Regions from separate parts of the Homo sapiens genome. Here all the other regions are linked to region 3. The links come from fine-mapping of genetic effects on gene expression. A gene starts in region 3. Each other region holds a variant in brackets. All regions are shown on one strand. Distances are from middle to middle. Region 1 overlaps PDE11A (phosphodiesterase 11A). Region 2 overlaps OSBPL6 (oxysterol binding protein like 6). Region 3 holds the start of OSBPL6 (oxysterol binding protein like 6).

The links. PIP is the estimated chance that this variant, and not a neighbour inherited with it, causes the effect.
Region 1: its variant is fine-mapped to the expression of OSBPL6 in subcutaneous fat (TwinsUK, PIP 0.95).
Region 2: its variant is fine-mapped to the expression of OSBPL6 in whole blood (TOPMed, PIP above 0.99).

The regions. Positions count from the first base shown.
Region 1 is chr2:177,932,066-177,934,565 of GRCh38, reverse strand. All of the region lies in intron 2 of PDE11A (phosphodiesterase 11A), which reads left to right. Among named protein-coding and RNA genes, the nearest start is that of PDE11A, 140 kb to the left of the region's middle. The variant G/TGG (reference allele first, on the strand shown) is at 1,498.
Region 2 is chr2:178,304,067-178,306,857 of GRCh38, reverse strand. OSBPL6 (oxysterol binding protein like 6) reads right to left here. Exons shown (of 25, transcript NM_032523.4): 3 at 572-828. The coding sequence starts at 673. Among named protein-coding and RNA genes, the nearest start is that of CHROMR, 110 kb to the left of the region's middle. The variant G/A (reference allele first, on the strand shown) is at 985.
Region 3 is chr2:178,193,080-178,195,934 of GRCh38, reverse strand. OSBPL6 (oxysterol binding protein like 6) reads right to left here and starts at 1,423. Exons shown (of 25, transcript NM_032523.4): 1 at 1,261-1,423. RefSeq lists silencers at 439-733, 1,180-1,869.

The DNA.
Region 1 (2,500 bases), 260 kb after region 3:
TCCACAGTGGCTACAGTAATTTACATTCCCACCAGCAGTGTATGAGCATTCTCCTTTTTCCACAGCCTGGCCAATATCTGTTGTTTTTTGACTTTTTAGTAATAGCCATTTTGACTGCTGTGAGATGGTATCTCATTGTGGTTTTGATTTGCATTTCTTTGATGATTAGTAATGTGGAGCATTTTTTTACATGTTTCTTGGCCACTTGTATGTCTTCTTCTGAGAAGTGTCTGTTTGTGTCTTTTGCCTATTTTTAAATGGGGTTATTTGTTTTTTGCTTGTTCAGTTGTTTATGTTCCTCTTAGATTCTGGATATTAGACCTTTGTCTGATGCATAGTTTGCAAATGTTTTTTCCATTGTGTAGGGTCTGTTTACTCTGTTGATGGTTTCTTTTGTTGTGCAGAAGCTCTATAGTTTAATAAGATCCCATTTGTCAATTTTTTTTGTTGTTGTTATTGTAATTGCTTTTGAAAACTTAGTCATAAATTCTTTCCCAAGGCCAGTGTTCAGAATGGTGTTTCCTAGGTTTTCTTCTGGGATTCTTACAGTTTGAAGTTTTACATTTAAATCTTTAATCCATCTTGAGTTAATGTTTATATATGGTGAAAGGTAGGGGTCCAGTTTGATTCTTCTGCACATGGCTCGCCAGCTATCCCAACACCATTCATTGAACAACGAGTCCTTTCACAATTGCTTATTTTTGTTGATGTTGTTGAACAACAGGTGACTGTAGGTGTGTGGCTTTATTTCTGGATTCTCCTTTCTATTCCATTGGTCTATGTGTCTGTTTTTGTACATGCTGTTTTGATTACTATAGCCTTGTAGTATAGTCTGATAGTGTGAAGTTGAGTAATACCACTGGCTATTTATTTATTTATTTATTTTTTATGGAGTCTCACTCTGTCACCCAGGCTGGAGTGTAGTGGTGTGGTCTCGGCTCACTGCAACCTCCACCTCCCTGGTTCAAGCAATTCTCCTGTCTCAGCCTCTGGAGTAGCTGAGACTATAGGTGCAAGCCATCATGCCCAGCTAATTTTTGTATTTTTAGTAGAGATGGGGTTTCACCATATTGATCAAGCTGGTCTCGAACTCCTGACCTCAGGTGATCCACCCACCTCGGCCTCCCAAAGTGCTGGGATTACAGGTATGAGCCACTGTGCCCAGCCTGGCTTTGTTCTTTTTGCTTAGGATTGCTTTGGCTATTTGGGCTCTTTTTTGGTTCCATATGAATTTTAGCCTAGTTTTTTCCAATTCTATGAAAAATGACATTGGTAGTTTGATAGAAATAGTGTTGAACCTATAGATTGCTTTGAGCAATATGGCCATTTTAATGATATTGATTATTCCAATCAATGAGCATGGAATTTTTTTCCATTTGTTTGTGTCATCTACGATCTTTTTAAACAGTGTTTTGTAGTTCTTCTTGTAAAGATCTTTCACCTCCTTGGTTAGATGTATTCCTAGGTATTTTATTTGTGTGTGTGTGTGTGTGTGTG[G/TGG]CTATTGTAAATGGGATTATGTTCTTGATTTGGCTCTCAGCTTATACATTATTGGTGTAAAGAAATGCTACTGATTTTTGTACATTAATTTTACATCCTGAAACCTTGCTAAAATTATCAGTTCTAATAGCCTTTTGGTAAAGTCCTTAGGATTGTCTAAGTATAGAATCATATCATTAGCGAAAAGAGATAGTTTGACTTCTTCTTTTCCTGTTCAGATGCCTTTTTTTTTTTTTAACTCTTGCCTAGTTGCTCTGGCTAGCACCTCCAGTGCTATGTTGAATAGGAGTGGTGAGAGTGGGGATCCTTGTCTTATTCTAGTTCTCAAGAGGAATGCTTCCAGTTTTTGCCTGTTCAGTATGATGTTGGCTGTGGGTTTGTCATAGATGGCTCTTATTATTTTGAAGAATATTCCTTCAATGCCTAATTTCTTGAGGGTTTTTATCATGAAGGGATGTTGGATTTTTATCAAGAGCTTTTTCCTCATCTATTGAGATGATCTTTTGATTTTGTTTTTAATTCCATTTATGTGGTGAATCACATTTATTAATTTGTGTATGTTGAACCAATTTTGCATCCCAGAAATAAAGCCTACTTGATTATGGTAAATTAATTTCTTGATGTACTGTTGAATTTGGTTTTATGTATTGTTGAATTTTGTTGAATATTTTCATGTCTATGTTCATCAAAGATATTGTCCTGTAGTTTTCTTTTTTCATTGTGTCTTTACCAGGTTTTGGTATCAGGGTGATGCTGGCTTCATAGAATGAATTAGGGAAGAATCCCTCCTCTTCAATTTTTTAGACTAATTATAGTAGAATTGGTACCAGCTCTTCTTTGTACATCTGGTAGAATTCAATTCATATGGTCCAGAGATTTTATTTGGTTGGTAGGATTTTTATTACTGATTCTATCTCAGATATTGATATTGGTCTGTTTTGTGTTTCAATTTCTTCCTGATTCAATCTTGAGAGATTGTGTGTTTCCAAGAATATATTCATTT
Region 2 (2,791 bases), 110 kb before region 3:
ACTGGCTCAAATGGGACCATGGGCGTTTTCTACCATGATTAAGTAATAACCATTTACTTTCTCTGTTGCCTGTAAACATTGTTTGGGTTCTCACAGCTCTTAATTCCTGGTATTACAATTTTATCTGTAACCTAATTCCTGAATCTAGCTGTTACCAGATTCCACAAAATACCAAACAGAGTTAGGGCTTGGCAGCCCAGTGACAGCCTTATAGGAAGACGTCCTTTGCAGGGTTCACAGTTCCCTTTCCACCTCCATGAACGAAGAGAAGAGTGTTCAAGTTCTTGATGCTGGCTCCCCCTCCAGGTGCAGGGAGGAAAAGACGGCAGGGCTTCTCATAGCCACCCTACCAGCCTTCTGTGTCTGCCTTCTAAAAAAGAGTCCTAAATCACAGAGAAGCAAGAGTGGGAGCTTCATGACATCAATGAACGTACCTACAGAAAATGACGATTTTTCACTTGGAATAAAAGACTTTACAACAAAATTTCAGAATTAATTAGCAACCCCATCCTATCTCAGTGGTATTGCATTTGCATAAAACAACCAAAGGCACTTAATGCTCTTCTCTTACCTGCCTACTGTCCCTTTGGGAGGATGTTGAAGAGGAGGCACTTCTATGGGTTGGAGTGGATGTTTTATGAGCAGGGGAAATGCCCTTCTCATCTGAACTCATCGCTGCAGTTAGAGTCTCGTTTTATGCACTTAAGACCATCCCAATCTTCTCTCAAATCCACAAACAAAGAAGTAGATGATTTTTCAGCTTCATTCCATTTCATGAATCAGGTTTGACTAGAAAAGAGCAGGCAATATTGAGGGTGTCCAAACCACCTAAAAGCAAAACAAACAAGCCTCATATAAGTAATTAAAAGTCAAATTAAAATCATTATCTTTAGGATGAAATATTAATTTGTGTTAGTGAGAGGAGGAACTCTGACACATTAGGAAATACTTCTTCCTCTAGATTTTAAGGCGGAAGATGAAAGT[G/A]TCAGTGTGTAAAAAAAAAAAAAAAAAGGACTGTTAACAAGCAAAATGGGAAGAAATCATGTACTAAAGTCATATTCTCTCCTCTTGCATTTTCTTTGTTTTAAAGCAGATTATAACGCTATATTTGAGACCCTGATGCTAAAGACGCCAGATTCTCCTCCGGAAACGTAATCTCTCCTACCCAATGGACTAGAATAAGAGCTCGGTCCATGTTTGTCTTCAGTTTAGTTTAGCTATGTCATGTATGTGACGGTTAATCCAACACAAAGTAGTCAGTTACAAAAGAGTTAACACATTGTGTGCATCCTGTGATCCAGCATTTGTGAAGGATCCAGGAATACATATATCCACATTTATTTGTACCTCAAAACTACAGCATGCCTACATGTGACTCTCAACAACCAACATGCTCGCAAACATCTACAGATTGACAGGTTATCTTAGAGCAGGGGTAAATGGAGTTCCTTCACTTATGCACAGCCAACAGCCACTTCAATTTTTTTACTTGGATTCATGTAAGGAAGGTTTGCATTGTTAGTATTAAGGTTAAAGCTTGTGTCAGAGAGAAGCTCTTAAATTGGCCTTGTCTCCAACACAGCTATGCTAAAAAATGTTAAAAGGTAAGCACTATGGTATAACATTAAAAGCTTAAAAAATGATATTTCCCAAAAGATAGACAATTAAAGTGAACTTTATCCTCTTACAAGAAGAAGGTCACATTCTAGCCCCCATCTTAATGCTAATATCTTCTTGGAGGAAGTACAGAACACCAGAACACTTGTGTAGGCTTGTTAGCACAGGCTGGGAAGGAAAGCTGCTAGCAGGAAACAGAAATCAATTTTTAGGCCACAAAAAAGTGAGACCTGAACTTCAGTCCAGAGGGTGAGACACTGAATCAGATAAACAAAAAAAGATGGAGATATATGGGCATTATGAAGACAGTGACTGAGGTGAACTAATGGATCTGGGAGTTAGAGCTGAGGTCCAAAGAATGAGCGGTTTACTAAGTACCAGGGTGTCTGGCGTGACATGATCAACAGATGAGTGGTAGCCAATATGACTAGAGTCAGAGATATGGCGATATGGTGGTCAAAGAAATGCAGAGACCAGTCCCTGCAGGACCTTGTAGGCCATGACAGTTGCTATGGTCTGAATATGTGCACCAAAATTCATGTGTTAGAAACCTAACCCCAACGCAACAGTATTGGGAAGTGAGGCCTAATGGGAGGTGTTTAGGTCATGAGGGTGGAGCCCTTGTGACTAGGTTAGTGCCACTATATAAACAGCTTGTGATATGGTTTGGTTGTGTTCCCACCCACATCTCATCCTGAATTGTAGTTCCCATAATCCCCATATGTCATGGGAGGAACCAGATGAGAAGTAATTTGATCTTGGGGGCGGTTACCCTCATCCTGTCCTCATGAGAGGTCAGACCTGATGGTTTTGTAAGGGGCTTTCTCCTCTTTTGTTTGGCATTTCTCCTCGCTGCTGACATGTGAAGAAGGAAGTGTTTGCTTCCCCTTCTGCCATGATTATAAGTTTCCTAAGGCCTCCCCAGCCATGCAGAACCGTGAGTCAATTAAACCTCTTTCCTTTATAAATTAGGTGCTCTTGGGTATGTCTTTATTAGCAGCATGAGAATTGACTGATACAGCTTGTGGGAGTGGGTTCTCTCTCTTCTGCTTTCCTGCCATATGACGACATGAGGTTCCTCCTCTCCAGAGGATGCAGCATTTGAAGTGCCTCTTGGGAGCAGAGAGACAGGGCCCTAACCTGCTGGTGCCTTGATTTCCCAGCCTTCGGAACT
Region 3 (2,855 bases):
ATGGGAAATTTCTTATTTTTACCTTGTGAAGACTACATTTCCTAATCAGCTTAGTGATATGTAACCATTAGTATGCAATTTTTAAATTTAAGAAAAGATGTCCAAGAAAATTATTTAGAAAAAAAAAATCACAACTGAATATAATAGACAATTGGCTAAACTTAGCCCAGCAATTTAAAAATGAAAGTTCCTATAGAAAAAACCTTACAGGATTTTGTGTCCAGAAGAGAGAAATAATCTGGCAACCCAGTGGGTTCACTTAGTTTCGTGTCATTTGCTTCATGTCCATTATGTAATGCTTCCCCTAGCTTTAGGTCTCTATGTTTAAGCAACCGTTCAGGTATATCATAGAATTGTCACAAAATCAGTATCTGGTTATAACTTTCAAAAACAGCTTAAAAGGTGCCTTGCAGATGTGTCTATACGCAGCAGAAGCTTTGGGGAGAAAATCCGCTTGTGTCATTACTTCTCCAGGCTTTCTCCTCAGGTCTCCCATTCCCTCCTCCCCCAGCATCCCCGGCGACACGATCTGCGGGCAGCTCCCGGCTTGATGCAGGGGAAGCACGTCTTGACTGCAATGCAAACGCTGTCCCGGTCTGAACCAGGGAAGGCAGACTTGGCCCTGGCCGGGGGAGTGGACGGAGGCTGCCGGGAGGGCTGCAGGGGCGCCAGCAGCGGGTGGGCAGGGGTGCCCCGCGAGGGCAGTCCGCAGTGCACGCGCACAATAAAACCCAATGCACAACTTCCCCAGCCGCTCCTCTCGGCTTCCCCGATTCCCTGAAAGGTGCGGCGTAGGCGTTAGCTCTCGCGGGCGCGGGCGCTCTCACCCGCGCCGGTTCGGTTTTCCGCTGACAATTACATCAGTCCTTCTCCCTGCCCCTGCTTCAATCCCCAGGCAGCCTGCGGGGAGCAGGGGCGCCGGCCCGCGCGAGGGAATGCGAGCGCTAGTGGCAGGCGGCCGGAATTCCCTGGCAACGAGGGGGAGGGAGGGCGGCAAACCGGGACCGCGATACAGACGCCCCCTCCCATCCCGGCCGCGAGAATGGGCTGACACCGCCGCCCCCACTTCCCTGTAGCCCGGGCTATCGGCCGGGGGCGCCTCCAGGGGGACGGCGATGTCCTGGGGACCCGAAGCTGCGGCTGCCCACCCACGCGTCCCTCGGGGTCCTCGGCCCGCCGGAGGCGCACAATGCCCCCGGGCCGCGATGCGGGCACCTTGGCGCCCGCCCCAAGCAATCCCTTTGCAGCTAGGACACCTACCTGGAGGGCGAGCGGTGGCGCCGCGGACTCTGCGGCGGCTGCGCGGCTGCGACGGGAGGCAGGAGGCGGAGAGCCGGCCCCGGCAGGCGGACTGGCGCGCGGGCTAGTGGAGGAGAGGAGGCATGGGCGCCGCCTGCACCGAGCCGCGATCTCCAGCACCGACAGCGGCGGCGGCGACCGTGCTGCGCCTCCAGTGGTCCGCTGCGCTGCAGCCCCTCCTCTCCCACGGGCGGGGCGCGCTGGCGGGGCGGCGCTCCGGGTTCCCCGCCCCCGGCTCCCGCCCGTCCGCCCGGCTGGAGTGGAGCGGCAAGCGGCTGGGGCTCATGCTGCGCACCCGCCCTACCGGGCGCCCCTCCCTGCGCCGCCAGATGGGCTAAGGACCCGGCGCCCTGCGCCCTGGTCACGCGGGGTCCCACAGCCAGGGCTCTCCCCTGGCCCGGCCTCCGTGGGAACCCGTGGTGTCCCGAGATCACCCGCAGTGGAAACCCCGAGTTGCCATCCGCGGGCCTGCGCGCAGTAGCGGAGCCCTCGCCCCGCGCAGTCCGGCGGAGGTGAGCCGGCCGCGCTCGGGAGGGTTGCCCAGAACGGCTCCAGCGCTCGGCCCAGGAGCGCCGCAGCCGGGAGCACTGCGGGAGACCGAATTCCGAAAGGAACGGCTGCCTGGCGGCCTCCGCTCGGGGCTGCCAAACCCATGTCCCTGGGCGCCCTTCTGAGGTCGTCATTTCATACACTTACGCGACTGTGCGTGCCTGCTCCCGTCCCTGACTCGCTCGGGAGCAAAAACTTCCCGGGCCCAGAGAAACACCTGGGTTCTGCGAAAGGAAGAGCCGGTTCCTTCAAGCCCCTGGCAAAGCCGATCAAAGTCAGTCAGTCCCGCCTCACTACAACCCTTCCACACCCTTAAACCCTTCCACACTCCAAGCCACTCCCGGCCTGCGTTCGGTGTGCAGATTAATCTAAAGGCAAATTTGCTGGGAGGGACGGGGTAATGTAAATATTTGTACAGACATTCTGTAAACGAGTGACTGCGGACATGTCAATATTTCAAGACATTTGTGTCATCATCATCTGGGGGTGGGAGGCGGAGGGGGAGTCCAGAGGACATCGACTGGACTTAATGGGAGCTATTACAGAACATGCTGGGGTGCCTTCAAAAATGGAAGATATTGCTTACTAATGAGGCAACTGTGATGGCATTTCATTGTGCCCTGTGCTGACAAAATGATTTGCTATGAAACATAGTCGACTTTATGCACTCCTTCCCACATGCAGTTTCTCTTGAATCTCCAATCTCACCTGTTGGATTAGCTTTTTCCATCTAGACTAGCAATGTTCTCATGTCCTCTGGTCACAAAATAATAGATGCGGGACCCTGCGACAATGGCAGTTTGTCCTTCATTCCTTTGCTGTGAAGACAGGCTCCTCAAGGGAGCAGCTGGGATGCTGACCTCTGCTTCATCACAGCCACCCTTTCTACTTACTCCTTCTGAGTTCCATTAACAGAAACTCTACTGAAATGGCTTTCTCCCTTAAAAGAAAAAAAGCTAAAACCCATGTATTTAAAAAGAAATACAAAAGTGTGAACGGAAATGAGA